2 separate regions of the Homo sapiens genome follow, and region 1 is linked to region 2. Evidence: fine-mapped expression QTL. A gene starts in region 2. The other region holds a variant in brackets. All regions are shown on one strand. Distances are from middle to middle.

Evidence for each region.
Region 1: its variant is fine-mapped to the expression of RARA in whole blood (TOPMed, PIP above 0.99).

Annotation. Positions count from the first base shown.
Region 1 is chr17:40,336,143-40,351,290 of GRCh38, forward strand. It overlaps RARA (retinoic acid receptor alpha), which reads left to right. Exons shown (of 9, transcript NM_000964.4): 3 at 12,174-12,322; 4 at 13,642-13,783. It overlaps RARA-AS1 (RARA antisense RNA 1), which reads right to left and starts at 6,994. Exons shown (of 3, transcript NR_110861.1): 1 at 6,734-6,994; 2 at 5,854-6,548; 3 at 4,725-5,558. RefSeq lists enhancers at 5,272-5,850, 5,886-6,436, 5,923-5,972, 6,437-6,986, 8,087-8,637 and 2 more and silencers at 5,353-5,582, 9,343-9,392. The variant T/C (reference allele first, on the strand shown) is at 8,520.
Region 2 is chr17:40,300,686-40,315,833 of GRCh38, forward strand. It overlaps RARA (retinoic acid receptor alpha), which reads left to right and starts at 8,495. Exons shown (of 9, transcript NM_000964.4): 1 at 8,495-8,601. CDC6 (cell division cycle 6) reads left to right here. Exons shown (of 12, transcript NM_001254.4): 10 at 143-345; 11 at 783-923; 12 at 1,227-3,972. The coding sequence ends at 1,316. It overlaps LOC105371934 (a long non-coding RNA gene), which reads right to left. Exons shown (of 2, transcript NR_189654.1): 2 at 14,508-15,148. RefSeq lists enhancers at 7,922-8,807, 8,187-8,356, 8,367-8,496, 8,808-9,691, 11,281-11,781.

The sequences.
Region 1 (15,148 bases), 35 kb after region 2:
TCTCAGCTCACTGAAACCCTCTGCCTCCAGGTTCAAGCGATTCTCTTGCCACAGCCTCCTGAGTAGCTGGGATTACAGGCGCCCGCCACTATGCTGGACTAATTTTTTTGTATTTTTAGTAGAGATGGGGTTCCTCCTTATTAGGCTGGTCTTGAACTCCTGACCTCAGGTGATCCGCCCACCTCGGCATCCCAAAGTGCTGGGATTACAGGTGTGAGCCACTGCACCTGGCCAAAGACATTTATTCATTTATTTATTTATTTGTTTTAGACAGAGTCTAGCTCTGTTAGCCAGGCTGGAGTGCAGTGGCACGATCTTGGCTCACCGCAACCTCTGCCTCCCAGGTTCAAGCCATTCTCCTGTAGCCTCCCAAGTAGCTGGGACTACAGATGCATGCCACCATGCCCGGCTAATTTTTTGTATTTTTAGTGGAGATGGAGTTTCACCATGTTAGCCAGGATGGTCTCGATCTCCTGACCTCCCAATCCGCCTGCCTCGGCCTCCCAAAGTGCTGGGATTACAGGCATGAGCCACCGCGCCCGGCTTGTTGTTATTTTTTTGTTTTGTTTTTGAGACGGAGTCTCATTCTGTCACCCGGGCTGGAGTGCAGTGGCTCGATCTCGGTTCACTGCAACCTTTGCCTCCCGGGCTCAAGCGATTCTCCTGCCTCAGCCTCCCAAGTAGCTGGGACTACAGGCGTGTGCCGCTACGCCCAGCTAATTTTTGTATTTTTAGTAGAGGTGGGGTTTCACCATGTTGGTTGGCCAGGATGGTCTCCATCTCTTGACCTTGTGATCCGCCCGCCTCGGCCTCCTAAAGTGCTGGGATTACAGGCATCAGCCACTGTGCCTGGCCGTGACCCAGACCCTTTGTAGGTGGGAGCTGGAGAGAATGGGATGCTAACATCTATAGAGCACCTACTGTGTGTCAGGGGCTTTGTCTGTGTTTTACAAATTTTAATCCCTGCAATCCTGGAAGAGGGACATTATCCCCACTTACACAGAGGACACAGTGCTGGGGGAGGTTAAAGTACTGCAGAATCATGACTGTAGGATTGTAAAGCTGGGCTGTTTTCCACCATCTACATAGGCAGCTTTGAGAGTGGATTGTGGGGCACACTCTTGGGTGTGGGAAGTGTGGGGGGTGGGGCTTAGTGCTGACTGAAACCCCCTTCCCCACTGTAGAGGCCCTTTCTCTGCCTTAGAACCTACCTTTCCCCGGTAGGGGGTGTAGGGAAGGCCCAAGCCATACCCCCTCCTCTCTGTTTTGGATCCTGAAGGCTGGAGAGAAAGAAAGATAAGGGGCCTGGGCCAGATCTCCATCCTGTCCTGGAAGCTGTGGATACAATCTGTTCACACCATCCCCACCCCCAAATCTGCCCGCTGTAGCCCACGGGAGTTTGCAGAACTCAGCGGGCACCCTCCCCCCGATCTCCAGACACTGAAGGAACAGAATGTAAAAGCCACAGTTCTTATTCTTAATTTGTTTCAATTTGTGGATGGAGGCAAAGAAGTTGCAAGCCATCAACAGAGGAGCCGGGGATGGGAGCCCCAAAAGGGTGGCTGCATGTTTGCTTCGTGTGCCTAGAGACTGGGGAATGCCCGAGGGTCTGGGTGAGCCCCAGCAGAAGGCAGAAAGGAGGAGGTTGTGTCCTTCCCTTCTTCCTATCCTCTGCCACTTCCTCGCTGTTGCAGTCTGTGCATACTGCCTCCTTCCCTGCTTCCCACTCTTTCCCTGGACAATAGGAGGGACAGCCCAGGCGGAGGGACAGCCCAGGCAGAGGGACAGCCCAGGTGGAGGGAGTGCTGCCTAGCAATGCCTTTCTTGGAGTCCGAAATGTAGAGTCAGACAAAAGAACATGACATGGAGTTTTTAATGAAAATGGGGTCCCTCACCTTTTATCTCCCAGCAAGGATAATGCACAGGTTCCCTCTGGACAAGATCCCAGCATAGACGCGGGGAGGGAACTCAGGGAAGGAAGCCCGTCTTCCTTTTAGGTGGGTCAGGGCCGAGGTATTGTGTCTACCCCATGCCAAGGGATGTGTTGCTTATGGGGCTGTACCAGTGCAGGCCTGCCTGCCCTTTGAGGGAGTAGTGTCTGTGGGAAGAGGAAGTGGTTTCCATCTCTAAGTCATTTTGGGGCAGTGCCTTCTTCCTCCTCCTCCTCTGTGGAGTTGGGGCACAGCGAGGGATTGGGCCTCCCAGGGTTGACTGGAGGCCACTCAACCTTTGGCTGTCAGAAATAGAGGTGCTCCCCTCCCCATTTTGACTTCTGGGTTGCTGGAAACCTCAACCAGCCCACAGACCAAGGGCCTTCCATGGGCAGGAGTCTTAAAGGACAGTTCTTCCTGTGTGGCCTTGGGCAGGTCACCCAAGCTCTCTCCAAATCTGTTTCCTCCTCCTTAAAGCAAGACTTCTGGCTGGGCACGGTGGCTCACACCTATAATCCCAGCTACTCGGGAGGCTGAGGCAGGAGAATCACTTGAACCCGGAGGTGGAGGTTGTAGTGAGCCGAGATCGCGCCATTGCACTCCAGCCCGGGTAACAGAGCAAGACTTGGACTCAAAAAAAAAAAAAAAAAAAAAGCGTGGGCACGGTGGCTCATGCCTGTAATCCCAGCACTTTGGGAGGCCGAGGTGGGAGGATTGCTTGAGCTCAGGAGTTCAAGACCAGCCTTGGCAAGATAGCGAAATAGCGAAACCCCATCTCTACAGAATATACCAAAATTAGCTGGGCATGCTGGTGCACACCTGTAATCCCAGCTACTTGGGAGGCTGAGGCATGAGAATTGCTTGAATCCGGGAGGTGGAGGCTGCAGTGGGCTGAGATCACACCACTGCACTCTAGCCTGGGTGACAGAACGAGACTCTGTCTCAAATAAATAAATAAAAATAAAAAAATAGAGCAAAACTTCTAATCTCTCCTTGGCTGGGCGAGTTGCCGTTAGGCCACGGTCGCCTGCTTCCTGCTGAGGCCCTTGGTGAGTTTCACGTACCCAGCAAGGCTGTGATAGTGAGGGGCAGGGTAGAGCTGGGTACTGTCTTGGGGGATGGTGCCACTCTATACTGGGAGCCAGTGTCCACCTGGCACTGGGCCTCATGATTTCCTGTTTGTTGTCCCCTCCAGATGGGGTTGGGGACAGGAGGGGGCCCTGCCTGGCACAAGTGGGGGCCAGTTTGGCCTGCACCTGCTGAGGGCTTACTAAACGCAAAGCCCTGAGAAGGAGCTGAGGGAGGGATAAGGCTGAGCAGGATGGGGCCCCAGGCCTGCAGACAGCTGCCGCTGGAGGCCCCCCAGCCCCAGCTGCGGGCCAGAGCCTTCCTTGTTTCCCACTTCTCCCACTGCCCCAGGACACTGTGTTCTGCTCTGACCTGCCCCATGACCTTGCTGTTGCCCAGAACGGGCCTCTTGCCCTAGCTTCTCCTCTCCAGCTCCGGAAATCCTATCTATCCTTCAAGGAACATCTTGAATGCCGCCTCTTCCCAGAAATCTTCACAGATGTTCCCCCTTGCTTGCCACACTCTGCCTCCCTACTTAGAATGCCTGTGGGTCCTTATTTATTTTTTAACAACACTCATCTCGCTACCCAGAAGTTGCTTCTCCCCTGTTCCTGCCATGAGCTGTAACCATTTGGGACATCTTTTCCTGACCACAAGGTCTTTGATGGCAGGGACAGAGTCTCAGGTCCCTTAGCGCCTTGCAGCTGTGAGCGCAGAGCCTTGCTCCATCATTTGAAAGATCCCGAAGGCATGGAAGCACTCTGTCCTCTTCGCCATTAGTCTCATCCACTGTCAAGATTTGCATACCTGCCCCCAGACCCCAGCATTCCATCTGTAGCCCTGACTGCACTTCAGGGCCCCACATCCACCTGTCCAGCAGCCCAGTGGACTTCTCTGCTTTGCAGTCTCAGGAACTTCACTGATGCGTAAGTCACACACAAGTCTCTTTGCTACCTCTTTTCCCATACCCCTTACCCCCACCCCCCCACGTTATTTGTACCTTTAAAATGTTTATTGAATCCACCTTCCTCTGTCCATCAGCACTTCCAGTTTCCTAGGCCAAGCCACCCTTGTCTGATGCCTGGACTGCTGCAGTAGCTTTTACCTGGTCTCTCTTGCCCTCCTATAATCCATTCTTCACACAACTACTGGAAAGATCTTTTTACACTGTAAATCTGATCTTTCCTTTGCTTGGAACCTTTCTATGGCTTTTCCTTGCATTTAGGATAAAATCCAAAAGCCTTACTGAGGCCTATAAGCCCCCCTGGTCTGGCCTGAGCCCACCTCTCTAGCCTGGTCTTGTGTACCTTTTCCTTTTGAATTTTGTGCCCCATGATTCTAGCCTTCTGCCAGTTCCTTCAATGAACTCATCAACTGCTGTAACCCCAGGGCCTTTGCACAGACTCGCCCTTTAACTGGAACTACACTCCTTTCTACTCTTTGCCTGATTAACTTACAAACTTTCTCTTATGGTAGGTCTGTTTTATTTGAGTTCTTCCCTAATTTAGTTAAACCTAAATTAGGTACCTATGTTAATTCTTCAGAGCATAATAGCATTTATCTCAGTTTGCAATTGTGTGTGCATACAGTGATTATTTGCTTAATGGCTGTTGCTCCCTAAGGTCTACAAGGGCAGGTTCCCCAGGGTGTCCACATAGAAGGTGCTCAGAAAAATACCTTGAATTGGCCTAGCTTGGTAAGAACATGGGCTTTGGCAGCAGGAAGTTCAAATACCTGCTCTACTCTTTATTATTAGTAATGTGATCTTGGACAACCCACATAGCCTTGCTGAGACCTGTTTTATTTGTAAAACATCTCTTGGAGTTGCTGTGAGGATAAAATGACAACATATATAAAGAGCCAGGCTTCTTCTAGAAGAATGTCCTTGGGTAGCATGTACATTTCCATCCTTCCTTTTAGAGAGTGGGGGTAATAGGATACCCCCTCCTCCAGGGGTATCCCCTCTTTCTAGGGACCTACCCAAGCTAGGCCTTTCTTCCAGTGAAACGTGCATCCCGAGGGCTTCTAGGATGAAGTAGTCCACTGGAAGGCACCAGCTCTTCCTTTTATCTCTCCAGAGCTGGACAGTGCACCAGGGGCCGGTACTGGTTCCCCAGCTAGGAGACACCTTGGGCGGGGCTTTGCTCGCCGGAAGCACGCAGAGCGTGGGGAGGAGGGCCCCCTCTGCCTGTGTTTGTGCCAACAGCACCCGCGCTGCCGCGTCGGGTTCCGGCGGCCGGAGTCACACATGATGTCACAGACAATGACACAAGCCGGTGTCTCATTCCGACACAGCGTCCGAGCTGCACAATGTCACACCCGGGTGCCAAACACTTGGCCCCGCGCGACCCGGCCCTACGCCTCCTGCCGCCGCTCTCCGCGTCTCCGGGGGAGGTGGCCCGGTTCGGCCGGGCAGGGGGCTGGCGGGCGAGCCCCGCGGGCGGGCTGGCGAGCGGGTGATGTCACGGGCAGCGGTGGGTGGGTCACTCGGAGGTGAGGCGCCGCCAGGCGAGTTCAGCGAGAGTTCAGCCGCATTGCATTAGGCAAATGAGGCCCGGCCTGGGTGGGGGTGTGTGTTAAGGGGAGGACACCGGGACCACCCCCCTCTTCCCCGCCCCACCACCTCCTCCACCACGGCTTCGCTCGGCCAGGGACTGACCAAACCTTGGGGGAGCCTGGGAGCCGGAACTGGTACAAGGGAGGACGCCCGCCCCTCTTCCGTCCTTGTCCCCTCGCAGCCCCCTCCTCTCCCTGTACTCGGCGTCCCTCTGTACTCTGTGTACTCCTCATCTGGAGCCTTTCCCCCTTCCTGCTTCTCTCCTCTCCTCCCCCTTCCCAGGCTGCCCCCACTTGCCTGTCCACATGCCGCCTCTCCCTCTCGGTTCCCTGCGTTTCTCCCGCTGCAGCCGGACGCGCCGGGAATGGGTTAAGCCAGGGGCGGTGCCTGGACGGGGCGGGGCGGTGGAAAGGGGGTGGTGCCCGGAGGGGAGGGGGCGCGCAGAGCTGGGGTGGGGGGGCCGTGGCGCGTACCACCAGAGACCGAGCGAGTCGCCAGCTGCCCCTGGCCTGGCGGGGGCGGAACCGCGCGGGATCCCCACCCCCACCCGGAATCCTCGCCACGGAGAATCCCTGGAGAAGCCCCGGATCCCCGGCTGGGAGGAGGAAGTGCTCGTTGACCCCCAGCCCCGCGCTGATCCCGCCCCCGGCCTGCGGACTTGGGGAGCCGCTGTACTCTGCCTCGGACGCCACGAGACTCTAGACGGGAGTCCCCTCGAGGTGAAGCCGCTGAGTTCCCGGGCCCCGCCAGGCTTCCCTGGGAGAGCCGACGGACCCCCCCTCCCAGCACACACAACTTCCCTGCTTTTCACCGGGACTGGCGGAGCGGCCGGCGGACTTAGACGCGGGGACTTCAGGGCAGGGGGCGCCCCCTGCCCGGGTCACCAGTCGGGGCGAGGGGACGTCTCCTCTCCCCCAGCTGCTCTGCTCGGATGGCGCCGCCGGCTGAGTGACGGGGGCGGCGCGCAGGACTTCCCAGCTCGGACCTCTTGCCTTCGAGGGGAAAGATGTACGAGAGTGTAGAAGTGGGGGGTCCCACCCCTAATCCCTTCCTAGTGGTGGATTTTTATAACCAGAACCGGGCCTGTTTGCTCCCAGAGAAGGGGCTCCCCGCCCCGGGTCCGTACTCCACCCCGCTCCGGACTCCGCTTTGGAATGGCTCAAACCACTGTACGTACCGGCCTCTCAGTCTGCTGTTGTAGGGGGTGGGAGTGGGCGGTAGGGCTTCCACTACTACTCGGGGGTGAGAGTCCCGGGGTGTAGTGGAGGTCCTGTCTCTACCTTTCACTTAACCCGTGTTGCCCTTGCTGGACAATTGAACCCTCCCGGCCGCACCCTCCCCCCAGTAACCCTAAGTGCAATTTGTGTTAGATTAGGGCTGAGGAACTTTGAGAGTTCCTTCTTTCAAGCAACATTCCTTCATCTCTTGTTTCACTTCTTCCAGGAGAAATGAAGCCCAAGCCCCTTGCCCCCAGTTTATATCTTCTTGCCTGGAATCCAACAGCTTCACAGCAGGCTGGAGGGTGGGGTAAAGGTCCTGTCTGTGTGGGTTTGTCTGCTCCCGGGGGAAGGCCCCCCCGCCAGATCCCACTTGCCAAAGCCCGAGGGAGAGCCCCTTCCTGTGCGACAGCTGCTGCCCCCAGCCCTTGCTCTTGCGTCATTAGAGTGGGTGTCAGGGGAGCACTCAGTGTCTTTGGTATTGACAGTGGGGTGTGGCAGAAAGGGGCAACTTCATCAGACACCCGTCTGCCATCCTAACCTTCCATCTTGGCAAGGGGCACTGGGTCCTTATGGGGTTGTTGTCCTGGCCCCAGACACTTGGCTGTCATCTTTGAGGCTTTCATCCCCAGGAGTGGAGGGGAGAAGCTGCTCTGGTGAGAAGAATCCCTCTCCCCCTAATCCTAATCCGGTTTGTTCTCTGGGGAATGAGTTTGTTTTTGTGGGTCTGGGGCTGCTCTGGAAATGAGGACTGCATCCCTTCCCAGCTCCGCCACCGAGTCCTTTTGTTACCCTGACTTCACTTGGGGATAGGGCCAGGTCCTGGGCTGTGCCTTCCTAAGAGGGGCACTGATGAGAATCCTAGCATCCTGGCAGCCTGGTCACTTTCTCTCCTTGTTGCCCCCTGCCTGGGTGCAGGCTCCTCTGGGAGGAAGGGCTCTGTGCACACTCAGGAGCTCGGAGCACCAGGGTGTACACCTGGGCATTTTCCTGCGCAGCTGTGAGGCAGTGTACACTGGGTGGGCGGGAGCAGGCGCAAGGGGGTTATTGTTAGATGGCTCAGGTTTCTTCCCCTCCTGGGCTTTGGGCTCTTTGCTGGAGGGGAAGCTCTTCCGTGGAGGATCTCCCACCTTCCTGGACCTGCTGCCTCCCTCCTGCCTGCCAGGGAGGAGGGGTGGAGTGGGTCTCGGGGGGGCCCTGGCAGATTGGAGAAGGTTGAAGGGCAAAGGACTTACCCCACCCCTCTTGCTGGGAGAAGAGAGACCTGAGATGGACAGACAGCCCACCTCTGCCCTCCCAGAGCCACTTCTATCCCAGCTTTTCCTATTGTCCTGCCCCCGACCATTTCCTCTAGGGCCGAATCTGCTGTGTGGCTGTAGACACAAGAGGGAAGGTATCACCCTTGACTTTGGAAGAAGAGAGAGTGAGAGGATGACTCTAGGACCCTTTTTCTCATTCTCCCAGTGCTGGAGCAAGACCCCCCTCCCCTAGGGGGATAGTTGGAGCAGGGCTGCCAGAGTCACCCCTTCCACTGCCTTGGCCACCTTCTCCAGAGGGCTGGAGAGAAGCTGGGATCTGAGACCTTGGTCTCCAGCCCCTGTCTCTTCTTAGCCCATGGGGACAGCTCAGCTCTTCCTGGCCCAGAACTGGAGAGGGAGGAGGATCACAGAGAGTAGGACAGGCAGTGTATTGGTGAGCCCTTCCCCTAAACCACTGGACATGGGGAAGTGGAGACCTGTCCCCACA[T/C]CCATTCTGGGGTGGGGTAGTAGACCTAGAGGCCTGGGTTTCCAGTTCCCGTAGTCTGAGCGTGGGTGTGCATATATAAGTGAGTGAGGTGTCAGTGGACTCGGGTCCTGAGGCTGTGAGGTTGGGAGTGATGGGGGTCTGGGGGCTTGCCTTGAGGCACAGGAAGGACCCGGAGTCTGAGGGTGGCAACTAGACTCAGTCTAGAATATGTGGGGCCAATGCCACCACCTTGGAAGGGTCCCCTTGGGTGTGTGGAAGTCCGCTGGTGACTGGAGCTGCCTCCAGCCCCCTCTTGGGGAATTCTCCACTCTCCCCTTTACTGCCACTGAAGGTGGGAAGAGCAGGTTGGCTCTGGGAGGAGGTGGCCTGGGTTCTGCAGGGCCCTAGGGACATTGCCTCCCTCCCCAGAGCCCTCATTTCGGTGCATTAGAGGACAAGGGGGGTGCACAGGATGTGGCTCCCCATCTGTCTCCCACCAATCTCCGCCACTCACACCTCCGCCCGCTCCCAGACGTCCAAGAATGTGAAGCACGTGGATGCCCGTAGTTGGGGGAGGGGGAGACGCTTATCAGGCGGCCGCTGGGCTAGGGGCCTTCTTCCGCTGCCGCGGTACACCCAGAGCTACCCCCGCCTCTCCCCGGGAGGAGGAAGGACGGTACAGAGGGCCCTACGCCCCCTCCCCAACCATCCCCAGGGGCTGCGAGGGGAGCTGCGGAGGAGCGGGCGCCAGCTGGATTGGGAGGGGAGCCGCTGGCCGGGGGCCCGGCTGATTTCCTGCTGATCTCCTCCAGGAAACCGGCCCCTTGTGCGAGCCTGCGAACGGCTCGGGGGCGTGGGGAATCCGGAGTGGAGCGCTCTGCGCCGCCCGCCCTGCCAGGATGGGGAGCGAGGGAGGGGCACCCTGGCAGCGTCGGCGGGAGGGGACGCCTGGCTTCCTGGGTCAGTTCCAGTCCTCTGTTGGGCGCTGGAACTTTGAGCTGAGAAGGTGTGGTCCTTCTCTAGCCCGAGTCCTTCTGCAGGAAGAGGAGAGATTGGTGGGCTGGGCCTCTGGGGAGGGAGGTTAGCAGGGATGGGCCAGGCCCGGGCAGTCCCTCCCCCGTTGGTGTCCCTCCCCACTCCACCTGTGTGTGCAGGGAGTTATGGCCGTGTCCTAACTCTTGCAGAGGCTGTGAGGATTCCGGAGTTCCCCACACCTCCGGCCTTGGTCCTTGTACCTCACCTCCTTGGACTGCTGGCTGGAGGCCTGGGGAGGTGGGGCATCGAGCTCTGGGTTCAAAGGGCAGAGCAGGGAAACCTCAGAGCTGGGTTACCTGGGTGACAGGTGGGGATGTGCTGGAGGTAGGGGGCAGGCTATGTTACAGCCTCCAAGGCAGTCAAGCTGCCGTTGGGTGGGCTAAAAGGAGGCCTTGCCCAGCCTAAACTGTAGTCCTTGCCTCTGGTCATCTCTCCCATTCTGCCAAAAAATAATTTTAAAAAGCACATTCTCTCAGTTCCGTAAACACCCTCTGTTGGACTTTGCTTTAGCTCCATGTTTTTATGGCTTTTTGCCCTCTAGTCTGTCCCAGGCCTTAGAGCTGTTTACCTCTCATCCTGGTATCCCCCATGACTCCCCATACCCTAGCTCCCCTCGTGACATCCCGCTCTGTACCCCCAAAGCTCCCTCAGTCCTTTCTCCCTCTCCAGTCTGGTTCATTTTAGAAGTGGGGCCTTGGGAGAGGCGGGGCCCAGGGCAAACGGTGGATTAGGAGGGGTGGGGAGGTCAGTGCCTTCTTCCTCTGCTTGTCGGAATGCTGACCAAGATTCTAGGCCATGGTCCCCCCAACCCTCCACATACCCCCTTGCCCTTGATCTCCCCTCCCCCCACCAGTCTGGATTGTCTATTGTTACTGCTTTTACGTCTTGGAAAAAGTTAGCACAACAAAGGGCTGCTTTGTGGCTCACCCCCTCTGCCTCCTGGCCTCACCCAGGCCCCCCAACCCCGCCCCCCCAGCAGCTGTTCTCAGGCCTCTCAGCCTGTCTGATTTGCTTGTCTGGCCTGGGGAGAATGAGGTGGGAGAAAACCAGGCCAGGGCAGTTGGTGTTGGAGTGAAGAGCAGACGGCGGTGGGGAGGTCAGGAGAGAATCTGCTGGGCTGGGGATGGTGTGGGCATCAACTGTCCCATTGCTGCAGGCTGGTCTTGGGGCAGGGAAGGGGATGGGGGGCCATAGCAGTGCTGGTCAGCCAGGCTGGCCTGGGAAGTGGTGCCCAGGCACTACTAAGAGCCAGGAAAGCCCTGCCAAGGTTGTTGGCCTAGTTCCCTGTCATCAGCCGCCTAGCAGCCCCCACTGTGTCTGCAGGTAAGGGGGGAGGGTGGTAGCACATAGTCAGCCCCTGGTGTTCCCATGCTTCCTTCCTCTGTGCCCCAATTTTAGGGCCATGTGATTTGGGGCTATGTGACTCATGTCTGTAAGGTGCTTGGGCCAGGAGCTGTGGGCACCTTTAAATGCCAGCCAGTCTCATGTGCCGGAGTTTGGGGTAGGGCTAGGTAGGATTGTGGAATATGGGAGGAGGCAGGGATCTGTCTACCTAGGGAGGCATCCTCATCCATCCTTGGCCCTGGACAAGAGAACTTGAACGTTGGTAGGGGCCTCAGGACGATGCTGCGTGGCCCCTTGGGAATCTGGGATTGTCCTGGTCATAGTTCTTATCTTGCACCCAACACCCTTAGCTGCCCAGGCTTTGGACATGGATAGCCCCTACCCAACCCAGCCCTGTTCTGCCTACAGTGATGGGCATGGAGCCAGACACTGGGGAGGATTTGGCCAGTGAGGGCTGCCCCTGCTGTCTGGGTCACCCCTCCTGGCTGCCCTCTTGGAGCTGAATAACAGAAGGGGAGGGGTTAGTAACCCGGACATAGTATTGAGGCCAGACAGACAGAGCATTGATGGGAACAGACCCCCTTTGTCATGCCATCTCTCCCCAGATGGGGGGTACCCAGAATAATGGGCTTTTGGGGCCCTGGGGACTCTTCTCCCTGTATTCAGGGTATCTCCCCCTATCTCAGGGAGACACCTCCTACTGTGCCCAGCATTTGTGACTCTTCTTTGCACCCCCTGCCTTGGGTCCCTGGCCCTGGGATTGTTTGGGTGGAGGAGGGGCAGTGGCTGCTGGCAGAATGGGGTGGAGGGGGGAGCGGAAGCAGAGGGGGCGGGGGAGTGGCCGGCTTTGAATATCCTGTTGACCCCAGTTTCCTCTGCCCCCAGCTTATGTCCTCTTCCCTCCCTCCTCTTCAAGCGTTAACTCCTTCCTAACTCGGGGGGAGAACGGGGCCAGGCCGCCCAGGGGCAAGAGCTTTAGAATCAGGGTGACCCCCACCCCTACTCCCCAAGCACAGTCACGGCACACATACAAATGTGATGGTTTATCATTGTATCTTTGTGGTTTTGAAGGTGGGGGTCCTAGGAGTCCAGAGGAGTGATGGGGTGCTGGAGGCTTCATTGGCAGCCTCCTGCCCTGAGTCTGGCTGGGGAGTCCCAGTTTTCTTAAGACTTGAATCCTGCCAGCAGTGGTGAGGCTGGGAGAGGCTCTTAGGAGGGACGGTGAGGCAGGGTGGAGCTTGGTACTAAGGATGGCGACCTAGGTCTCTAACTGCCCCTCCCCTCTTCTCTCTCTAGCCATTGAGACCCAGAGCAGCAGTTCTGAAGAGATAGTGCCCAGCCCTCCCTCGCCACCCCCTCTACCCCGCATCTACAAGCCTTGCTTTGTCTGTCAGGACAAGTCCTCAGGCTACCACTATGGGGTCAGCGCCTGTGAGGGCTGCAAGGTGAGTTGAAGGGGTCATTGGGAAGGACAGCTTGATGAGGTCAATGGGATGTCCCCACTTCTGTGTCCTGGGAGTGTGCAGTTGGGGGGTGTCCCTGAAGTTGCTGCTCTTCTTTCTCTGTGGAAGTTGGCAGCAAGCAGGGACACCTACCACAGTTTCCCCACAGGTCCTCCCCCATAAATGTGCAGGGCTCCCTCAAACCAGAGGTCCCCTCCTGCCTCAGCTCCTTTCCCTGTCTCTATCCTCCAGCTGGCAGGGCGTACGCCTGCTCTGCCACCGCTGCCCAGGTTGCCATGGTGAGCTGGCTGCCGACTGGCTCTTGGCTGGGGACCCAGGAGGCCTCCCCCGGCGGCCCTGCCTGAACCTCACCATGGCAGCCTGGCAGGAGGCAGTTAGGAGCAGGCACCCTGCCTTAGCTTCCCCTTCAGGTGCCCGGGCTGTGGGCTCCCCAGTGTCTGGCTGGATTTCCCCATCCTCACGTTAGGTGCCAGGGTGCAGGTATACCTGGTCCTTAGCAGCCCTGCGCCCGGCTTCTCCTCCTTTCCCTGGGGCCTGAGCCTCTGTGTGCGTTTCTTCCTCCAGAGATTGGGGCTCAGAATCTTCACAGCTTTGGGCCTTGCAGCTCTGGGCTGCTCTTCAGCCTGGAGTAGCTATCCCCAGATGTGGGACGGAGGTCAAGGGCAAAGCACAAGGACTCAGGCTGTGTGTCTGCCTGTCCTGTCTGGTTGTTCCTGGTCTGTTCTTCCTCTGTCCGCCTGTCCCTCTGGTCAGCCTGTATGTGGAGCCCCTGGCCAGCCTGGGTCTGTGTCTGTGATGGGTCGGTGCACACCTGTCTTGGTGAACTCACATCTTTCTGCCTTGCTCCTGAGTGCATGTGTGTGTTCGCCTCCATTTCTCTGGCCAGCCCGTGTATCTGCCTCCTGGCCTCTTCGGGCTTGTCTTCTTTTCCTGTGTTCTGAGTTCAGGGGTGTGGGTTCCAGATCCCTGGCTGTTGCCCAGTTAGCCCCATGTCTTCCTATTTCTGACTCACCAGCAGCCCTGAGGTCTTTTCCCTGGAAGGGAGGAGTCAGGTGTGTGCTGTGGGTTGGGGGAAGACTCCTGCCCATCCTGCAGTGTTGAGGCAGGTACTGGGATTCTCCTGAGGAGGATCCTTTTAGGTGAATCATTCTCCCCAGCTTTTCTGGCCTGCTCAGGTAGGCGATGGGCAAACGCTTGGGGGCAGCAGCTGGCCTGGCCCTCCTCCCCTAGACTGAGACCGTAGCCAGGCACTGCTCCCACTGTGGGTGTGGACAACCTGACTCCCTCCCCTCCATACCCAGGGCTTCTTCCGCCGCAGCATCCAGAAGAACATGGTGTACACGTGTCACCGGGACAAGAACTGCATCATCAACAAGGTGACCCGGAACCGCTGCCAGTACTGCCGACTGCAGAAGTGCTTTGAAGTGGGCATGTCCAAGGAGTGTGAGTGCCATAGGGCAGGGGCCGAGTCCCGCCTCAGTTGGGGTCTCAGATGCTCCTAAAGACCAAGGGAGCAGGGCTCTGTGGATGTTTGTGCACATGCATGAACACGCATGCCGTGGTGTGCGGGCTCACGGTTGAGGATGGTTTGTGTGTAGCTGCAAGGACCTGTTTGCGAGTCTGGCTGGCTGTGTGTCCACGGGCAGGTCTGTGCTCCGGGACCGTGTATGTGTAACCATTCCTGTTTCTGCACGTCTGGCTGTGTGTGCTTGCGTATGTGTGTGTGTGTGCATGCTCCAGGATGGCTTTCTTCCAGGCCGTGCTTGGTTTTGGGGTGGGGCTCAGAGGCATAGGCAGTCCCTTCTGATTGTGAGTCTTAGGGGAGGGGCTTGAATTCTGAGGGGTGCTTGGCTGGACTTATGTGTGTATGGGGGGGTGGAAGGGCTGGCACAAGGATCCAAAAGCCATTGTCTAGTTAAGCCTGGGATTCAGAGTTGGAAGAAAGAATTGGGACTTCTCAGATCCCAGAGGAAACGGGGTTTCCACTTTGGGCTCAGCTGAGGCCTGATGGAGGGAGGGAGGGAAAGGCTGGACAGGGAGACCCTCTTGTGTTGAATCATGGGTGTTGCCATGGTGACCGGTGATTGATGATGTCAGAGATAAATGACGCTGACAGACGCCTCCTTGTCTGCGTGGCCGTTGCCATGGAGCCTGAGCCTTGGGGGATGGGATGGGGGAGGGGGCTGCAGGACCCCCTAGCCCTTTGTGGGGAGGGCAGTGGGGAGGGGGCACGGGTGAGATGGTTCTGACTGTTGCACGAAGAGCCCCAGACAGGAATGGAGGGGACTGGAGTGTCCTGCCACAGGAGGCTGGGGGTGCCTTGTCCTGAGCCCAGGAAGTGGCTCCTGCTGCAAGAGTGGGTGACAACTCAAGACCCACAAGCCTGGAACCCTTCGCTTAAGGGCTGTCACCTCCTCCTCTCTGTTTGTGCCACCTTCTGCTCTTTTCATGGCAGAAGGACCAGGGAGGGGACCCCTTCTCCCTCCCACCGCCAACTCCCCTTCTCCCTCCCACCGCCAACTCCCCCTCTCCCGGCTGCTCTGTGCCCCGGAGCTGAGCAGCTGCCATTTCAATAGAATTAAAGCTTCCGAATGATAAACGTCTTGTCACAGCTGCAATTTTCTCTTCCCAAATTATCCCCCCACTCTCCCTCTCCCTCTCCCTTCTCTCCCCTGCACTTTATTGAATTTGCAGAATCGACATGAGTGATCTCCAAATTATGCCAGCTACCCCCACCTCGCTACCCCCTCCCTGAGCCCCTCCCCCACCCTCCCTTCCTCCCGCGTCAGCAGCCACCACCACCAGCCC
Region 2 (15,148 bases):
AGAGATTTAAAACCTCTGCTTTGCCACCATGTGACTATACTTGAATTTCCTTTAGCTCAAACTTAGTATCATCTGTCTCATCATACATACACACACACAGTATTTTAGAAATCGAATTAAGCTTGGCTTATTTACTTTATAGGTAAATCACCTTCTGAGCCTCTGATTCCCAAGAGGGTTGGTCTTATTCACATATCCCAAGTCATCTCAGAAGTTGATGGTAACAGGATGACCTTGAGCCAAGAAGGAGCACAAGATTCCTTCCCTCTTCAGCAGAAGATCTTGGTTTGCTCTTTGATGCTCTTGATCAGGCAGTTGAAAATCAAAGAGGTCACTCTGGGGAAGGTAAGTTGGGATGGAGCAGATGGAACGGAGGTAGAGATCAGAATCTGCTTTGCAGAGCAGGTATTTTCCAAAAGGCCTATGATACTTCAGCTGATAATAAATTTAAAATGGATTTTAACAGTAAGAATTAATACTGGTACTATATAAAAGGCACCTATTTCCCTTGGATTGTGGTTGAGAGTTTATCATTAATCCTTTCCCTATCCTCCCCTTCATTTCTGCATCTCTCTAGGAAATATATAAAGCCCCTTTCCTACATTACTGTATAGGTTTTCGGGAATATCTACAGAAGCCTGTTCAAAGATTTTATTGAAAAGAGGAAGAAATAGGGTATTCAGATAAGTTTTTGCAAACCCAGACTCAGGTTTCTTAAATGATTAAAGGCTATAAGCAATGTGACTTTTAAGCAGCGTTTGTTCTCCCTTGTTTCCTACCAGTTATATGAAGCCTACAGTAAAGTCTGTCGCAAACAGCAGGTGGCGGCTGTGGACCAGTCAGAGTGTTTGTCACTTTCAGGGCTCTTGGAAGCCAGGGGCATTTTAGGATTAAAGAGAAACAAGGAAACCCGTTTGACAAAGGTACAACTGCTTTTTTGTGACAGTGTTTTTAATTGTCCTATTTTGTAGAGTGATGCTAAAGTAAAGGTTTATTGTTAAACAAGATGACCACAGTTAGTTAAACAAGTCGTTTTTTGTTAGGTAAGGTTTAAGGTGTGTAAAGATGGGAGTGTGATATGAATATTTTTTCAAGCCATTGGAAAAAAAAGTGTTTAACTTGCTTGCCTTTTGTGAGAAAAAGTTTAATATGGTAGAAGTTTGTATACTGACAACTTTGCTTTTGTGAGTTCCCCAGTGTGAAAAATCCTTTTCTCTTCTTTCCAGGTGTTTTTCAAGATTGAAGAGAAAGAAATAGAACATGCTCTGAAAGATAAAGCTTTAATTGGAAATATCTTAGCTACTGGATTGCCTTAAATTCTTCTCTTACACCCCACCCGAAAGTATTCAGCTGGCATTTAGAGAGCTACAGTCTTCATTTTAGTGCTTTACACATTCGGGCCTGAAAACAAATATGACCTTTTTTACTTGAAGCCAATGAATTTTAATCTATAGATTCTTTAATATTAGCACAGAATAATATCTTTGGGTCTTACTATTTTTACCCATAAAAGTGACCAGGTAGACCCTTTTTAATTACATTCACTACTTCTACCACTTGTGTATCTCTAGCCAATGTGCTTGCAAGTGTACAGATCTGTGTAGAGGAATGTGTGTATATTTACCTCTTCGTTTGCTCAAACATGAGTGGGTATTTTTTTGTTTGTTTTTTTTGTTGTTGTTGTTTTTGAGGCGCGTCTCACCCTGTTGCCCAGGCTGGAGTGCAATGGCGCGTTCTCTGCTCACTACAGCACCCGCTTCCCAGGTTGAAGTGATTCTCTTGCCTCAGCCTCCCGAGTAGCTGGGATTACAGGTGCCCACCACCGCGCCCAGCTAATTTTTTAATTTTTAGTAGAGACAGGGTTTTACCATGTTGGCCAGGCTGGTCTTGAACTCCTGACCCTCAAGTGATCTGCCCACCTTGGCCTCCCTAAGTGCTGGGATTATAGGCGTGAGCCACCATGCTCAGCCATTAAGGTATTTTGTTAAGAACTTTAAGTTTAGGGTAAGAAGAATGAAAATGATCCAGAAAAATGCAAGCAAGTCCACATGGAGATTTGGAGGACACTGGTTAAAGAATTTATTTCTTTGTATAGTATACTATGTTCATGGTGCAGATACTACAACATTGTGGCATTTTAGACTCGTTGAGTTTCTTGGGCACTCCCAAGGGCGTTGGGGTCATAAGGAGACTATAACTCTACAGATTGTGAATATATTTATTTTCAAGTTGCATTCTTTGTCTTTTTAAGCAATCAGATTTCAAGAGAGCTCAAGCTTTCAGAAGTCAATGTGAAAATTCCTTCCTAGGCTGTCCCACAGTCTTTGCTGCCCTTAGATGAAGCCACTTGTTTCAAGATGACTACTTTGGGGTTGGGTTTTCATCTAAACACATTTTTCCAGTCTTATTAGATAAATTAGTCCATATGGTTGGTTAATCAAGAGCCTTCTGGGTTTGGTTTGGTGGCATTAAATGGCAATTTGTGACTGAGACACCAGAGGGCACCCTTATAACATTGACTACTTTGAAAGGGGATGCTTGAGGCTGAGGTAGTTTTGAGGGAAAGGGGGAAGTTCTAGTTTGATTTGTTTGGGAGATTGCTGTCCTTTCATAACTGAAGCAAATGCTTGAAATGTAAACCATGTGTGATACGAATGATCTGAGAGCCAGTGACCAAGTCTGCTTTTCCCTGAGCTCTCCTGCTGCCGCCTCTACCTTTCTGACATGGCCTTCCATTTGGAACTTGATATGTGTACAAGTGATCTGTTGGCCACTGTTTCATTCATCCTGACCACTGTATCCGTGTAATGTGATCTGAGCTACAACAGGTGGTATGGGATAGAGGCAAGGAAAGCAGAGAGAGCCCTCTGAAATGAACACTACCCACTGGTGTGTGTAGCACATGATAGTCTGTAGGCATGAGTCTGAATGTTGTTCTCACACTCCTTTACTAGAGTATTCGTTCCCTCTGAAGGTAGTTTGAACATGGAAACACAGTTCTATACCTAGAAGGTTGGAAAGTGTCTGGGACTATAAGGGTTAACATGCATAATTGCAAAGATTGTCCGAAGGCTGATGGAAAGCAGAGACTGAATGGGATTGAGAACAGATGCGAAGCTTGATTTAAATTACATTTTATTGGATGCTGCAGCCTTAAGAGACGTGACTGCTTTACAGTTTGTTTCCACACTGTGGGCAGCTGCTGTCTGTTCTGTGTCCACAGTAGGATCCTGCCCAATAAGGAGCAGCCTCCCCACCTCATTGTGTTTGAGGCTTGGCGCCTTCCTCTTAACTGTAGGGCTTGAGTCAGGAACATGGCTTGACTCGCAGTGGGGCTGCTATGTATCCTCCCTGGCTTCCAGCCAAAATCACATTGGTAGATTCAAAGGGGCCAAATTTCTTTCCCCTCTATCTTTCCCTTTCCCCTGGTTTTGGAAATAGAGTTTTCTGTCTACTGATTTGTTAGTTTCCTTTTCTTCTCCCCTCACTGTCAATTTCTAGGTCATTGCTGCTCTTAAGACTTTAGCAGTTGGAACAGGGTTGGTTCTGTCAATGATGCATGAAGCAGACTTAGTGTCCCTGCTTGGCTTCTGCTGCCCTTGTGGGAGCAAAAGCTGATATATGTTTGTCAGTAAAGTCTTAAGTGTAATTCAGACTGCTGAGGAAGAAAGCCCTTTCCTTGCTGGCTTTTCTCCCTGAAGCTGAGAGCTTCAGGAAGGTGGTAGGAGTTTTAGTGGGATGGGATGGGATGGGCTTGTGGTTAGCAGTTTTTGCCAGGATCATAGGCTGCTTCACTTAGAGTAGTGGCAAAGATGCTGACCTACATTCTTCCTTTTGAAGGTGATGGAGTGTGTGTCTATATCCTGGTTTATCTCTCTCCCCCACCCCAAGGAAGCTGATTAAGCTTCCATAGAGTGTTGGGTGTTGCCATGGAAAGAGCATAGACAAAATAAATTGTGTGTTTCAACCCCAGAGCTGCCACAGATGTTTCTGGCTCAATGGAGACTTGCCTGTGGCTAGCTAACTCTGCAAGAATGTGTGAGGTCCAGGCTGGGGGTGGTGGCTCACGCCTGTAATCCAGCACTTTGGGAGGCCGAGGCGGGCGGATCACCTGAGGTCAGGAGTTTGAGACCAGTCTGGCCAACATGGCGAAACCCTGTCTCTACTAAAATAAATTAGCCAGGCATTGTGGTGTGTTCCTGTAATTCCAGCTACTGGGAGGCTGAGGCAGGAGAATCGCTTCAACCTGGGAGGCAGAGGTTGCAGTGAGCCGAGATCGTGCCATTGCACTCCAGCTTGGGCAGCAGAATGAGACTGTCTCAAAAAGGAAAAAAAAAAATGCTGGGTGTGATGGCTCATGCCTGTAATCCCAGCACTTTGTGGGGCCAAGGCGGGCTGATCACTTAAGGGTCAGGAGTGCAAGACCAGTCTGGCCAACATGGCGAAACCCTGTCTCTACTAAAAGTACAAAAATTCACTGGGTGCCATGGTACACACCTATAATCACAGCTACTTGGGAGGCTGAGACAGGAGAATTGCTTGAGCCTGGGAGGTGGAGGTTGCAGTGAGATGAGATCATGCCACTGTACTCCAGCCTGGGTGACAGAGTGAGACTCTGTCTCAAAAAAAAAAAAAAAATGTGTGAGGTCTAAGCTACCCAGAGATCAAAAAGTTGGCAGAGCCTTATTCTCTCTGCGCCCCCTCTTTTGCATTGCTCCCTACCTTTACTAAGTGTCCCTTTGAATATACATCAAGCCAGGTGTGGTGGCTCATGCCTGTAATGCCAACACTTTGGGAGGAGGCAGCAGCGGGAGGATTACTTGAAGTCAGGAGCTTGAGACCAGCTTGGGCAATATAGTGAGACCCCCTTACCCTTCTCTACCAAAAAAATCTTAAAAATCAGCTGGGCATGGTGGCATGCACCTGTAGTCCTAGCTACTTGGGAAGCTGAGATGGGAGGATGCTTTGAGCCCAGGAGTTCAACTCGGCATGGGCTATGATCACACCACTGCATTACATCCTGGGTGACAGAGCGAGACCCTGTCTCTATAAAAGACAGAAAGCAGATACACCAATAAGAATGAGAAGTTGGGAATAAGATGTGATTTAGGTTTTATATATATATTATATACATATTATATATATTTTATATATATAATGTATATTATATATAATATACATATTATATATTATATACATATTATTTATATATATATATATATATATTTTTTTTTTAGATGGTGTCTTGCTCTGTCACCCAGGCTGGAGCAGTGGCGCGATCTCTGTTCACTGCAAGCTCCGCCTCCCGGGTTCACACCATTCTCCTGCCTCATCCTGAGTAGCTGGGATTACAGGCACCCGCCACCATGCCCGGCTAATTTTTTTGTATTTTTAGTAAAGATGGGGTTTCACTGTGTTAGCCAGGATGATCTCGATCTCTTGACCTCGTGATCCGCCCGCCTCGGCCTCCCAAAGTGCTGGGATTAGAGGCTTGAGCCACCATGCCTGGCCGGTTATATATTTTTTAAATATCTTGAGACGTGTTACCTTGACTGCTGAGGGAGGACAAAAGAGATCCAAGATTGAAATTTTATTTACATTTGTATCTGTGCCTAGCAATTAGTATAGTGCCTAATACCTGGTAGGTACTCAATAGTTGTTTAACAGATAAGTGAACCAAATAAGATACTGCCTTTCCCTCAGTGGTGAGAACAGTTCTAAGCTGAAGGTAAACGTTGGTGGTACTTTTGCACAGAGGTGGAGCAGGCCCCTGCATAAGAAGGGTGCTCTGTCTTACAAAATGTGTCTTGGCACAGTTTTGGAGCATTTATTAGCCTCACAGATGCATTCCAATCACTCCCTCTGATGTAGTGGCATTTTGCTTGAGGCAACTTCCATGTTGCTGGTGGGACGCTTTGGCTATGAGGGGAAGAGTCTTATCTACAGGCTGTGAAGAGGGCTGCCTGTCTGGATGTCACTCAGTGTGGCTAGATTGGCCAGAAGCTGGGTCTGTAGGCAAGGGTTTAGGGAGGAGCCCACCTTTGATGTCCCTCTTTTTAACTTGGGGCAAGTTGTGATCTCAGGTTCTTCCTGAAAAGATAAGGTACTTTCTAAGATACCTTCTCTTAAGCTACAAACAGTGCAGGTCTTCCTCTTAGAAGAGGTGTGTTCCGTAAGGGGAGAAGGTGTGCCCTCTGGCCTCCCCTTGATTTTCAACCCCAGCCCCAAGGCACTGGTAGTGGAAGTTAATTGGGTGCAAGGGGCTTGGGTAAAGGCTGAAGACTGGTGAAAGGAGAGAGCCAGCTTCGTTTTTTAAAAAGCTCTAATTGAGTTCTGAATCAGCCTCACTCCCTTTGATCCCTCCTCTGTTTCCCACACTGCCTGAAAGAGCTAGATCAGCACTTTATAACAAGGGTGCGCCTGCTCCCCGCACCGCCCCCCGCTCCTGACGCTCTCTGCTGCCGCCATCCACTGCTTGTCTCCTTCAGTTAAGATAATGAAGATGCTGAGAGATAAAATGTGTATTTAATAAGGGTGGGGGTAGGGAGGCGGAAAGGGGCAACCAGGGCCTTCCCTAGTTTGGGGCCTCGCCAAGACTTAAGCTGAAAGCAAAGCTAGAGTAAGACTTGGCCCCAGGGTGTGGGGGTTTCTGGGCCTCAATCCAGCTGACTTCACTGCCTGCTGTTTGCCCTAAATTCCCCCACCTCCACCCTCTCACCCCCACACTGCTTTCTTCTTGCTCCCAATGGGAAAAAGGACTCTTGCTTCAACTTTCTTTTCAGCTGGTAACTTGGCCTTTGGTGCGGTGCCCCCCACCCCAGTGTCAGCTGCAAGGTCGGGCTAGGGCAGCCCCCTCTAGCCTAGGCCTGTAGAAGCTGTGGGTTCACAGTGGGGGGTGAAAAAGCTGGAGTTAATGAAGACCAGCTGCTAGTCTGGGTTCTGCCTACAGCTAGCTGGAGGCCAGCCTTTGGTGGTGGTTGATGGGGGGGTGGGGTGACCTCCATCCATGGGCACAAGGATATCCTGTGGCAGCTAGGCTTGTGCTTCTCTCTGAGCTTAGTTTTATCCTTAGTTTATAAGAGAGTATCTGTTTCCTTCCCCTACTCCTCTCCTCCCCAAATAACACTCAGCTCTTATTGAACTTTATAACTGTAGTGGTGGCCCAGCTGAGATCTGAGGATCTCCAAACCCTTTTGTAAACACTCATTAACTGCCTGGGAAGAACGAAGAGCCCTGTTTAACAGCTGGGAGAGAACTGAGGCACATTAGGGTGAAAGGTTTGACCTAAACTCACCCCATGGACTCCACCCTGGGGCCTTCCATCCTTAGTCCAGCTCCTTTACTCAGTTCTTCCTGCAAGACAGAGGTGGAGGCATTGCTGGTGTCTTCTCCCCTTCTAGGGAGAGGCCATGCCCTCTCCCCTCAAGTCTGTCGCTGACTTCCTCTGGCCCTTCCCCTCATGACGTTTTCCCTGCTCTGCTGCTAGAGATATGTGCAACTCTCCTTGCAAAATGTTCTCAATCCACAACTTCAGAATTCTTATCCAGCTTTCTCTTGCCCATCTAGCCCACCAAACCTGAATTCTCCCTTTTGAGCTACTGAGAAGACTGGCTATACTAAACTGAATCAGTGACCTTGAAGTTGATCTGTTGTATTGAGGTCCCTCTGCCCCTATATTTATCCTAAATGGTATCTAGGAAAATATTCTCTCTTTAACTTGTTTATTCTGGTCATAAAGATTCGGGACATTACTGAGGGCTGGGTAGGGGCACTAGTTGACCTCTAGGTTCTACGTCCTGTTCTTCCACTGACAATTACCATTTCCAGTAATAGGTGTAACCCAAAGTTCTTTTTTGTTTTTTTCTCCTTCCCTAACCCCACCTGTTTATACTCTTGCCTATATATGTGTATTTGCAGACCCCACACATTCCCAGATACACATACATTGGTCCTACATGTTTCCCCTGTTTCCAGCTGCCATCTAAGTGAGCCTGCACTTTTTACATGCTGAAAATCTTTTTTCACCCTCTATGGCCTCCTAGGTCCTTGGGAATAATTGGGAGGGATGAAGGGACTCCTGCAGTCCATGAGGAAGAGGACAGAAGTGAGCGCCCAACCAAAATGAATGCTCCCTTTCCAAAATCTCTAGCTGAATGCCTTAGCAGGAGTGGCAGGGAAAGAGATCTTAACCCCACCTCCAGCACCAAAACCTAAATCCATCTGCTCAGGGCAGGCAGGAAGAAATGTCTATTTTCTCCTGTTTCAGGTCATCCTATCCTCGAGTTATCCATATGCTGTGTATTTGAGACAGGGAACTGTTCCTGTCCCCAGCCGATGACCAGACGCCCATCTTTCTTCCAGTGGGTTACTTCTCCCCCATCAGTCCTTCGCTCTGCGCCCGCTGACCCAGTCGGGGCTGGCTGGTGGAAGAGGGCGGGGAGAGCCTTCTAGTTGGCGAGTGGGCTTTAGGACCCAACGGGAACCCGTGCCTCTTGCAGCAGCCTAACCCAGAAGCAGGGGGGAATCCTGAATCGAGCTGAGAGGGCTTCCCCGGTTCTCCTGGGAACCCCATCGGCCCCCTGCCAGCACACACCTGAGCAGGTAGGACCATGCACACCCCTTCCCAATTCTTTGGCCGCCTTTGACCCCGGCCTCTGCTTCTGATCTAGCCATTTCCTTCTCGCCAGTTCTGGCTTTCCCCATCCCTCCTCTCCCGTCGCTCACTGTAGTCCTGGGAGGTGGGAGCCTGGGAACAGTGGGGTGTCTGAAAGCTCAGAGCCCTCTGCACCCTCCAGCACCCTTCCTGCATTTCTCCTGAGGCAGTTCCCGTTCTCTAGATAAGAGTGGGGAGTAGGGGGAAGGTCTGCCCAGGCCCCACGCCCTTGCACCCTCCTTTGCGGTATTGCCTAATACCCCTTCCCCCACCTCACCTAGACTGGAGAATTGGCAAGTGCTGAGGTAACAGAGAGAGGAGAGAGCCAGAGAGGGACCTGAGCTTTCCCAAGGGATTTCTTTCTTGCTTCCTCACCCAAAGAGCTCAGGACTTTGCCCCTACTCCCTACACACCTTGTAGGGGAACTAATGTCCCCTTCCAGGTTCATCTCACACTTGGGTGGCTAAAGGCTTTGCTAGAGGGTAGTGGAGGTTGTGAGCATTTTGGTGAGCTTTTCCTCTAGGAAAGTTCTTTCAGCTTAGAGCCCCCATCCATGTCAACATTTCAACACCTGCTGCAGAAGCCCCCCGACCCCACCTGTGTGTGTGTGTGTGTAGGGACAATGTGGTTGTAAGATCTAGAAGCTTTGGATAGAGGTGGCTGCATGCATTGAAGGGGAGGGATACCAGAGTGTGGCCCAGGCCAGAACAGGCTCAGTCCAGATGGCTAGGGAAGGGGGTGTGGACCAGATTGAGGAGGTCACCCAGCCTTGCCAGCTCCCTGAGCTTCTTGGCTTTCAGAATCTCAGGCTCCTGGTGTTTCTCTAGAGCTACAAGGTCCCCAAGCTTCTGCCCCGCTACAGGCTCTCTGGGAGAGGGCTAGATGGCACCTACTGTTTACAGTGGCTTATTTTTCTCTCCTGTGGTGGGCAGACAGGCCCTGCTCTCTGAAGATCTAGGGCGTGTCATTCTGGTTTGGTGGGTTTACAGGAAGGGTGTACACCTTGTCTGACTTACCATGTGTGAGTGTGTGTCTTGCTTCTGGGGGTAGTAGACTGGGGAGGGGGGTGATAGAAGAGACTGGTCACACTGAGGGAACTCCTCTAGCAATCAATGTATGATAGGAATGGGTGGCATGTCCCCATCTGGTAGCTCTGTCTAGGTGTGGGGTGTGCTCTGCATTCTTCCATGGCTCCCCGGGTCCCCTAAAGGTTGGTTTTAGAGGACAGGGTGGATAATGAATTGGCTTCAGACTTCGTTCTGGTCTTGATCCAACAAGGAAAGTAGAGATTCTGACTGTGAGCAGTGAACTAGGAATCAGAGGCCTGAACTGGAGACTTAGACTGGTTACTTAACTATATGTGTTTATATAGGTCTTCCCCTTTGCTAAGCCTTAGTTTCTCCATTTGTAAAAATGGCTATCAGTAGCAAGCAGGGACATTGCCACTAAAACCACAGAGACAATGTATCGTAAAGCTCACTGCAAACGGTAGTAATGGCTGGGGGAATCTAGGATGGAATCCTCTTCCTAAATCTAGGTCAATCTCTCCGCCTTTAGTTTTCTTCCCCCATCCTTTGCCCATCTGGGGGATGGAGGAACTAGGCAGGGCTATTGCCCCGGTTACTGCAGAATTCCCCTAATGCAGGTTGTAGCTGTTACCAGAGCACCTGTGGTCACAGAGTACAGATCTCTCCACCAGGCATTTCTTCCTCTGGGGCCCCATACTTGCTCCCCTGAGCCATGTCTCCACCTTCCTTCTGCCATCCCTGCTTGGCGTCCTTGTCTCTCTCTCCCCTGCCCAGTGGCCTCCTTGTCTGGCTCACTGGGCAGGAGCCCTAATCGGATTCGACAGCTGAGATATGTGTGGCGGCTAAGAGCAGGCAGGAGGGAAGCCAGTGGGAGGATGGTATGAGGACTGCCCCTGGCACTGCCCCGGCCTCCCAAGCACCACCTTGGGCCTGCTGATTTCTTACTTGGCTTGGCCCCAAGGAAGGGGTGCCAGAGGAAGCTCAGGAATGAACAGGCTGGGGTCTGGAGACTAGGAGAGGAGGAAACACACCAAGGTCCTCAGGACCTGGTTGATATTCGATGACCTTAATGTCAGTGTCACTGACTCTGACAAGGAGGAAAGGACAGCGATGAGCCAGGCTGACCCCCGCCACCCCATTCCCATAGCCCCACTTTCTTCTCTCTTCTTGTTCAGAAATGTTTCACTTTGCCTCATCTAGCCCCTTTGGCCAGTAGGTCACATCTGGGAGCTTCTGGGGGTGCCACATGTCTGCCTCAATCTGGGCTGTTTCCTCCCCTCCAAGATATTTCACTGTCTCTGGGCTGGGCGCCAGGACTCCTGGGTTTCCCTGCCTGTGGTGCAGGGCTCCCCTGCAGGGCTCCAGAGAGTCGCTTAGCTGGTTTCCTTCCTCCTTTGTGGGGAGGGCCTTCCCCTAGGGCTGGGAGGTGTCAGGAATCCCAGGTGGGACAGGGGTGGGGGCACAGTAGCCTCTGGCACTGTAGCACCCCAGCTTCTCCCTCCTAGCCTCTGACTCAGCTTGGGGGCAGCACATGCCCAGCCTGGCAGGCATGGCCTATTCTTGCCTCCAGGCTTCTCTCTTTACAGAAGCCTACATCTCCTGCTCTCATTTTTTAGTTTTTTTCCCCATGATATCTGCAGGTGGCTAGTGAAATCCCTGGTTTTGGGGAGCAAGGGACTAACATAATTGAGGCTGGGGCACTATTTTGTCTTCCCTCCAGTTGGGCCAGGATGAAGGAGACTGTCACAAACTTCCCCAAGCCAATTCCTTCTGCCCTCAAAAGACCAGTCAGTGGAGCCAGGCCCTGCCCTTTGGGTGCCCACAATGTGGTTGGCACTGATTTGTCAGAAATTGGGAAGGTTTCCCTCTAGACCGCTTGCCTCCTTTCTCCTCCTCCCGCAGGGTAGGGGCAGCTCTGTGATTGCAGGCACTTATGGGCAGGCCTCCCCCTAGGAAAGGGGTGTGGGATGCCCCCAGGATGGCCAAGTTGGCGCTAGCCCCAGGCTGGAGTGCTGGACATGATTCTGACCTGGGAGTTAGTGGGGGTAAGGCAGGGCATGGGCCTCCCTGCCCCCCTCATTTCCTGCTCTTTGGGCAGCTGTGGGCGAGAAAGGCTGCAGGGACTATTTTTAGTTGGTCAGTCCCCTGGCAGGAGGGACGTGCAGAAAAGCACGGGGCAGGCAGAGGGGCTGGCCAAGGTGAGGGTAAGCAGGCAGGCAGAGGAGTGAGGAAGGGCCAGAGGGGCAGAAGACAGCAAGGAGGCATGGGGAGCAGGGGCAGGACCTTACCCAGAGGGGCATGACCCAGGTAGATGGGCCGGGCTGGACTGGGTGGAAGAGTCCTGGCACCCTACAGGGTTTTCTTTATCCAGCTGGACTCAGAGCTGGAAGGGGTTTTAGAGGCTACCTAGGCAATCCCTTCCCCTTGCAGAGAAGGAAACTGAGGCCTAGAGAGAACACTCAATCAGTCATTGGCTGTGTTGAGACCTGAACCCAGGCCCTCCCTTTGCACCATTTTTCTGTTGTCATGGTTCCTCACCACAGCTCAGTGTGCTTCCCTTCCCTACTGCAGCAAGGAGGACCACGAGCCAGGCACACCTGGTCCATTTTCCCATCTGCTTTTTTGTGCAGGGTCTCTGAAAATCCCAGCTTGGTTTGTTTATAAGTCTCCATGTGGAAAGAGTCTGTGTCCAGGCTAGAAGGAGGTCAGAGTTGGGTTTGTTTGGGTGGCCTGTGGCCACTGGTGTGAATGGAGCTGCTGGACAGGCTCCAGCAGGCTCACAGGCTGGTGAGCTGTGGGGCTAGGAGACACCTTACAGAAGGGACGTCCAGACTCCCCAGAGCCCTTTGTGAGCCCTCCTCCTGCCCTGCCCAGGACCTGTGGGTCATGGTGGTTGTTTGCCCATCTCCCCAACAAAAGAAGGGAGCAGGGCTGAGGAGTGGGGAGATTACTACTGGCTTCTGATCGCTAGTCAGAAGGAGGCCCCCTCTGAGGCCTGGAGGCAGGGAAAGTTGGGGCAAGTTGGGGTGTGTATGGGGAGAAAACTCAATGGAGAATTGTGGTCCCTCAGAATTCAGTCTGCTTTCTGTCTTCTGCCTCAGGCTCTCCCCACAGGCCACCATGCTGCACAGCTGCAGGGGGAACCATTCCATAGACTATGATGTGAATGGCACCCCCTGGGGTTGTTCAAGGCCCTGCCTGTGTAGCCACACGTGGTGCATCTGTCTCCCACCTTCTTCCTTCAAATTAGTTCAGACCCACCTGGAAGGAGGTGTTCCAGACAGGCCTTAATCCAACACCCTCTCCCCTACCCTGCCTCATGCCACTCAACATCTCCTATTCCTCTGCTGCCCACCCCCAACGCACCAAGCAAGTCATGGTGCACCACCAATTGTGGTTCAGAAGCCCCTCCCCTTCTCTCTACGCAGTTTCTGTGTCTCTTGGGGGCTGATTTATCATACCCCCCATCAAGCCTACTGCAGTGTGTGAGAAATCAATAGTGCAAATGGATTGAGGCTGTTTAGCCTGTCAACTCTCCTTGGGCCCCACCAACTCTTCTGGGACTTGCGGAGTTGCTCAGTCCCCTTCTGGCTCAACATACACATATTTAGTGGTTGTAGCCAGAGCACTGAGCACAGGAATTATTCTTTCTGTTGGTCTCTGTCTCATTCTCTCTCATATACTAGGCTGGTCTTAACATGACAAATACTCTTGAACATTTATTTTCTAGCTTGGGTGGACGGGCTTAAAGGGCAGTAGGCTGCCAGCCAGAGGTAGGGAGGGAGGCAGGTGGGTGAGGGATATGGCGGGTGGAGGGGTGGGGTGGGGGTGGGGACGAGCTGGGGAAGGGATTGGGTGACAGCCCACCCCATCAGCTCTGGTAACTCAATCCCTGCACCCCACCCTCCCAATTTCCCTCCTGCTCAACAACTTCAGCAGCTGCTGGCAGAAGCAAGGCTGGCAGAAGTGTGTTTGAGTGCATGTGTATATGAGGGGAGAGGGTGAGAGGGGCTGTGGGGGCAGGGAGTGCTGCCAGGACATGTTAAAGGAGACTCACAGCCTGGGTACAACTTGGGTGGCAGGAGGAGGTGGGGCAGGTGGGAGAGTGGGTGGTGAGTGATGGGCAGGCTGCAGTGGGGGCAGGGCAGCACAGGGGTCTCACAAAACTTGTTGGCACTGGAGCGGGGCCTGGTGTGGTGGGGGTGGGCAGTGGTGAGGGGGCAGGGGCTGGCACAGACATTGCTGGCCCCAGAATGCTGAGGCCCATTCTTTGCCAGGGGGCGCATGTAACCATGGAGGGACAGTCTGCCCCTGTCTGCAATCCTTGGGCTGTGCCTGCTGGGCATCACAGTCTTGGTGGTGACTAAGTCACTTCTGTCCTGGGGCTGGCAAGGTGCCAGGCTCAGCTCTTCTCGGTAGGTGAGTCACTGCCCTGGCATCTCCCCCGGATGCAGCTGAGTCACCCAGCCATGCCTGCTAGGCAGGTGGGCACCAGGCTTGTGGTGGGGGTGGAGGGCTATGTGTGCAGCCCCCAGTGTCTTCTCTGATCTCTCTCTGGCATGTCCTGGCCCCACCCATAAACCTGCAGAGCCAGGCAAGGATGGCGCTTCTCCCTTGTGATCCACTAAGGGGTGAAGGAAAAGGTAGCAGGGCACAGAGTGGAGTCATACATGTTTGATTTGGAGTAAGTAGGGGAGGAAAGAGTTGAGGAGGGAACATTGATTGGGTTATATGTATATATATATATATATATATGCTTATATGTGTATATATATATATATATATATATATATATATATATATATACACACACACACACACACACACACGTATATATTTATTTATTTTAACAAAAAAGACACAGGGTCTTGCTATGTTGCCCAGACAGGTCTTGAACTCCTGGAGTCAAGCAACTCCTGGCGTCCCATCTTGGCCTCCCAAAGTGCTAGAATTAAAGGTGTGAGCCACCATACCTGGCCTGGGTTTGAATCCCAGCCCTGCCATTGACAAGCTGTATGACGTTGAGGAAGGCAATTTTCTTTTTGAGCCTCAGTTTTTTCATCTCTACAATGGCAACAGGAGCCTGCCCCTTCAGGACTGTGAGAATCAAATGGAGTGGGACTATTAAGGTACTTGTGGGAGGAGCTCCTTTTGGGATGAGCTAGGAGGCTTGGGAGGGGAAGAGGAGTCAGCTGGAGCTGGTTCCAACAAACTCCCGCACCATGGTCTTGGAGGGCCAATTGCTTCTCATCATCTCTTCGGAGTATCACTTAATGCTGTTCTTCAGGAGTTTCCACAGGCTGTGAGAAGACAGCCTTGTTGTACTAGAAGTGTGGGCCCTCCTAGGGTGTCTCAGAGCTATATTTTATCTCTTTTGACTACTGAGAACTGCCACTGGCCCTGGTACCTGTCCAGACTCTCTTCCTTCACTTCCTCTAGTTTGAAGAGGGATGGGGCTCAGACTCCT